Regions from separate parts of the Homo sapiens genome. Here region 2 is reported to be linked to region 1. Evidence: microRNA targets listed by miRTarBase, many of them from high-throughput screens and not tested one by one. Region 1 holds a microRNA gene; the other region holds the end of a gene's coding sequence.
What was found. Region 1 holds the annotated microRNA hsa-miR-6788-5p (CUGGGAGAAGAGUGGUGAAGA, at 900-920, opposite strand). A microRNA usually pairs through its seed, bases 2 to 8, with sites in the 3' UTR of a target mRNA and lowers its output. Matches are read on the target gene's strand: a 7mer-m8 pairs with bases 2 to 8, a 7mer-A1 pairs with bases 2 to 7 and ends in A, and an 8mer does both.

Region 2: the mRNA of MRPL17 is a reported target of hsa-miR-6788-5p. Seed matches in the 3' UTR shown: 7mer-A1 at 1,378-1,384.

Annotation. Positions count from the first base shown.
Region 1 is chr18:10,758,725-10,761,724 of GRCh38, forward strand. MIR6788 (microRNA 6788) reads right to left here and starts at 925; the gene lies at 860-925. It overlaps PIEZO2 (piezo type mechanosensitive ion channel component 2), which reads right to left. Exons shown (of 56, transcript NM_001378183.1): 24 at 2,187-2,387; 25 at 981-1,185; 26 at 758-859.
Region 2 is chr11:6,679,288-6,682,287 of GRCh38, reverse strand. MRPL17 (mitochondrial ribosomal protein L17) reads left to right here. Exons shown (of 3, transcript NM_022061.4): 3 at 1-1,903. The coding sequence ends at 170. Among named protein-coding and RNA genes, the nearest start is that of MRPL17, 2.6 kb to the left of the region's middle.

The DNA of each region.
Region 1 (3,000 bases):
CTTTGCATTTGTAACCAAAGACTGTCCCCAAAGCAGAAGCCACACTGCAAGTGTGGTGAGAGCAGGTGGAGGTGGTGGACTGTGCTGGACAGCACAGCGCAGCCTGAGAGAGCTGTCCTCCCAGCAACTGCCCACAAAGGGCTGAGGCCAAGCCTGCCTGGAAGCCTGAACACAAGCTGCTTCCTTGCTTTTAAAATTAAACCTAAACTTGTTTAGGCAGGGCAGTCATTTGCATTTTCTGTAAAACCCAGCACTCTGGTCTTGGAGGAGCTGCTCTGACCTTTGGATCACCAGCTGCCATGGGAAGGCCTTGGGGCTGCAGCCCAATTCTAGAGCAACTAAAATCTGGGAAGCATCTCCCAGCATCCACTGTCCCATGTTCAGGGTTTATTTATCTGCACTGGGAGCCAGAAACCACCAAGTCAGAAAACACAAAAGCCTTCCTCTCTGGTCTGTCTTTTGAAAGGTGGCTGTGTAAATGTGTGTGTGTGTGTGTGTGTGTGTTTGTGTGTGTGTGTTGGGGGAAGTGAAATTATGCAAGTGAATATGGCATTTCCAACACTGATTTATTAATTTTGCAAATGTAATAGGGTGAGTAGAAGCCATTAATGACTTGTGATATTAATGCATAAGACAAGCCTTTACATGATTACGAAGTCTAGTGGAAGACAAAAGGCACTAATGCATAGCACGTGAACAATGATTAACAGTAAACCCGGATACCAGCACTCTGTGGCCCTGCAGTGGAAACACTTACAGACGAGAAACACAGGGTTGGGCCGCACAATGAAATCTGGGAAGTACAGCCACTTTATGATGTTGTCATTGAAGCTGGCACCCTTGAATCTCCACGGGTAATCTGCAGGGAGGGAAGTGGCGAACAGCACAATCAATACTCTTCTTCACCACTCTTCTCCCAGCCGTCCGCTCAGTAATGGCTTCTTCTAAAAGTAGACGGCTCAAGGGAAGGGCAGGCTCACCTCGGCAAGGAGCAGGTGGGATGCCAATGCAGATGAAATACTGGAAGGTGATGATGCATGCCAGGAAGCAGCAGTACTTGGGCCAGATCTCTGCGATGGCTTTCCTTCTGCGTCTATATAAGACAGCGATCAGCCAGCAGGCGTGGATCATGGCATAGAAATCCATTCGCTGGCCAATGACGTTAACTGACATTAGGAAACAGGTCTGTGTAAAGATGAAAAGAGGCAAAAAAAAAAAATCAGGCATATGGGAAAGGGGACTGGTGATAGGTGTCAGGTCTGTGTAGATGGCGGAGACCCATGTCCCTCAGGGCAAGTCTGTCTGCACAGATTCACAAATGCTTGCTCTTTTGAGTGTCTCAGCGTGAAGACAGAAATACTGTACAGATTACTCCCAGGGAAAAACTGACTAAGTAGCTGTTATCATAACCACTTCAGACAATAAAGAGAACAGCCATTTTGATCTCCTCATGAAACATCACCATTCCTACTTCATTCTATGAAGGCACAGGCACTATCACAATCGTTTTAGGTTAAAACAGTTCATTTTGGCTGCAGCTTATGGTTTCAGAATGCACAAAAAGAAAGAAGATTAATACTTTATTATTTATTTATTTTGAGATGGAATCTTGCCCTGTCACCCAGGCTAGAGTGCAGTGGTGCAAACTTGGCTCACTGCAACCTCTGCCTCCTGGGTTCAGGCAATTCTCCTGCCTCAGCCTCTCAAGTAGCTGTGATTACAGGCGTGCACCACCACGCCTGGATAATTTTTGTATTTTTAGAAGAGATGGGGTTCCACCATGTTGCCCAGGCTGGTCTCAAAGTCCTGACCTCAGAAGATCTGCCTGCCTTGGCCTCCCAAAGTGCTGGGATTACAGGCGTGAGCCACCGTGCCCAGGCAGAAGATTAATACTTTATTCTTAATAAGAAACCTGTTAACACGGCAACTGATGGCCATGCATTTAGATGGCTCTGGAGATCCAGAGAGGCCAAGGCACTGCTGTGGAGGGGGGTGTTCAGCACCCAAACTTGGAAAACTTTCAGTCAAGCCAGTTAACCATCAGTACAAATACTTTCTGTTCTTCTCAAGGGGACAGCTATCATGCCTGCAGATGTATCACAAAGTTCCAGTGGCCAATTGGCCAGAAGCAGTTCTTTGAATTTTCATGGAAAAGAGAAATAAAACATATCAGCAAGGAAACTCACCTCCAGACCAAACTTGTAAAAGAAGTAATTAATGAAATATTTGGCACAATTAATAAGTCCATCATCTAGATGTAGTCTTGTAATGTCATGAAAGATAGTTCTAGACACAGGGGCCGTCAGGTTATTTCGACCTCGATAGTATTCCTGATGGCGGTAAATGGTGACTTCAAAGGCCAGGATAGCCAGCATCAGGAGGTTATTCTACAAAGCAAGGAAACACAAATGTGTCAGCCAGAGGCTTTATGATTTGGTAATTTCAAGCAATCCCCACATTCTGCACAGCTACAAGGACAATGTTTTATAAAAGCTCACCTCTCTTAAGCAGTTTTGAGCTCAATATTCGTTTTCTCTGTCTTATTTATTGTGGCATTATCTATATTAGAAAATCAGGCTAACTTCCAAAGTCATAGGATCTAGAATCTCCAAACATAAGATGCTGCTGCTCATTCCTACTTCTCACAACTACACATCTCACACCAAGGAAGCAATTTCCAGTTATCCAAGGAGGGCAGTTCAGCCTTGTTTGCAGCCAGAAGTGCAAAAACAGTACAGAGACATCCTGGGACGCACTGAGCTAAATGAACGGGAAGCTGCTTAGGGGGAAGCTTTTGAACACTCCTGAAATCTGGCTACAGACAGCAATAGATTGAAAAGCATGCTGACAACAGTAAAATAATAATAGTGATGATATAACTATTATTCAAGATAATGAAAATAGTTAACATTTATGGAACCATAGGTTCCAGACACAATTCGATCACCCTTTTCAAATACCAATTTGCTTTATCCTCATAACAGCTATTTATGGTGGGTA
Region 2 (3,000 bases), not on the chromosome of region 1:
TGGCAGTGATCGAGTATAAAGGGAATTGCCTCCCACCCCTGCCTCTGCCTCGCAGAGACAGCCACCTTACACTCCTAAACCAGCTGCTGCAGGGTTTGCGGCAGGACCTCAGGCAAAGCCAGGAAGCAAGCAACCACAGCTCCCACACAGCTCAAACACCAGGGATTTAACTGGATCTGAAGAGTCTGCAGCCCTTAATCAGTACCCATGATCACAGGCCTTTGGAGCACTTTTACTCTCTGAGAAGAACTGGAGCTAGAGATGTAAAATGGACAGTCTTGATGGGGTTGAGAACCTTCTGGGGAGCCAGATGACCCTCTCTTTGCACAATAGATAAAAGTCTTTATATGAATATATATAAATTTATTTATTTTTTCCTTCCTGTGGGATTTCTGGAGAATGAGAATTATCCAAATGCTCAGTCTACCTGAGATAGTAAATTCATGGCTTATGCTTCTGGTCCTTAAATTTGGGTTATTTTTGGTTAGTGCAATTTTGTTTTTCTTAATGCCAGTTTACATGGGAATGCATCCTATAATTCCAAATGTTGCCAGAGGTGGTTGTGTTTTGACATCTGGTCTCCTAGAGATGAGTGCTTGGGATTTCTTAGAGAAAGATTACTTCCTGACAGGGGTAGGGGAGTGACAATCTGCAAGTGAAACTTCCTTAAACAATCTAGTACCCTGCGAACCTTCAGGGGATACTGCAATCAGTCCTCTGTTTTGAGGCAGGATCACACATTACCTTAATGTGTTCCCTTCAACCCCCTGAATGGGCCTGGGAGGAGAGGACCCAAGAACTCAGATGTTCCACCAGTTTGGCCAAAGGGGTGGAGACATTCAGCAGAGGATGTTGGGCTCCAGGATAAGCTCCTTCCTCTTGGTGAGGGGAAGGGGTAAGAAAGAGGGTCTATGCGAGAGAAGGATTAGGAAATTAAACCTCCTAGGAATTTCCTGGAAGTTTTTATTGTTGTCAAATCTGGCCTCTCTGGGAACCCAGAAAAGGGAAATCCGGCTTCAGAATGTGAGAAGCTGGGAGCCCCTTTCTTGGCACAGCCAGGCTGCCGTTCCCTTGGGTTCAGAGGCTTTAGTAGGGTAGTAGTTATGGAAGGACTTAGAAAGGAGCCATCAGTCTTGGTCCAAACACTTGATAGCAGTGCCTGATAATTGCCATATCCCCAGTAAAGTGGGTAGAAGAGATTTTATCTTAGGCTCTATCTTCTGAGTGTATTTGGCCCACTGAACCCATCCACTGTCTGAGATAATAAGTAAGAGTAAGGGTAAAGGGATCACTGGTGTAGCAGACATGGCTTCAGTGACAGAACGAACTATTCTGGTGCTAATTTAGCTGTAGCTGCCTTAGTCTGATACTCATCTACTCCCAACAGAGCTCTTTATCTCTTTTTCTCTACTATGGTTTGTTCTTCACACTATAGCCAGAAAGCTCTTATATTTTAAATGAAATATAGTAGACACTCAAAACATTTATGAAATAAAGCTACAACTCTGCTTCTGCTAAAAAATATACCCCTCTTCTGTCTTAGCATGAATATCCACCCTAGCTAGGTATCTAGGAGTCATACCTAACTTCTAGAGAAACCACTTTCCTTAAAACCACATCTTTATTTTAAATAGATGGATTGTGGCTGGGCTCCTGTAGCTTTTCCTCTTAGACCCCAGAAATATATCTCCCTTTGGGACTTCCAACAGTTCCCTACATGCTTTTTGAGCATCTGCTAGTTCCCAGCATCAATTTAGGCAGAAGGGATACAATATCCACTGTTCATCTAATAGAGACTAGAGATAAGAAACAACCTGTACCATCAATGAGCTCACAATAACAGGCCACTGCCACTACCACAGTGGCCTCAAGGGACACTGCTTCCCCTTTAATGTTTTGGTCCAAATAAAAGTACATGAATCCTAAAACATTTGCTAAAGGCTCAGGGATAACACAAGGAAAGTAACAGCATCAAGAATTTTACTGCCGGGTGCGGTGGCTCACGCCTGTAATCCCCACACTTTGGGAGGCCAAGGCAGGCAGATCATAAGGTCAGGAGATCAAGACCATCCTGGCTAACACGGTGAAACCCCGTCTCCACTAAAAATACAAAAAGTTAGCTGGGCGTGGTTGCGGGCACCTATAGTCCCAGCTACTCAGGAGGCTGAGGCAGGAGAATGGCGTGAACCTGGGAGGCGGAGCTTGCAGTGAGCTGAGATTGTGCCACTGCACTCCAGCCTGGGCAACAGAGCGAGACTCTGTCTCAAAAAAAAAGAATTTTACTAATCTGGCTTATAAATAACTTCTTCAACTAGTGGACTGCTCCCCCCAAGTCCATCTAGGCACCTCTTTAATGCGTTCCAAACCCAAGAGCACCACTCTCAAAGGTTCCCACCGTCTTGGGCGCCAGTTCTTTACAGTAAGGTAGACAAAGTAATGATCACTCCTTTCTCAAAAGGTAACAAGTTTAGGCTTTACAGTTAATACACTGTAAGCCTGATATCTTGGGGAGATGACTAGAAAAGTCAGAGATTATTTCCTTACCCTCATTGACACTGAAATTAACAAGTCATGTTTATTTCCGTAATGTTTCTCAAATCTGCAGTCAACTTGCTCCCTAGTAAGAAATCCAAGATACCTCTATCCTGGGTTACTTCAACAACCTCCTAACTTACCTCCCTCTACACTTTGGCTGTACTGACGGGAATCTGATCATCTTAATTCCCTGGTGATGATCTCCAGTTGCTTATTTCCTATGGGATCCTTATCATGACTCCCCTCCTTGTTCAGGCATCTACTCATCACTCCAACTACTTCCTTTGCCTCTAAATGCTATGCTCTAGAAGCATAAAAGTTCCTATTTTGGATGTTTCCCTGTGCACAGCTCCCCTGTCCACAACCTTTTGTTAAAGCAGTCCCTGCCGTGCAGACAGCCTTCTCTCTTTTACCTATGTAACTTACACACAAACTTTTGGTATCACCTAGGTGGCTCCCCGCCCA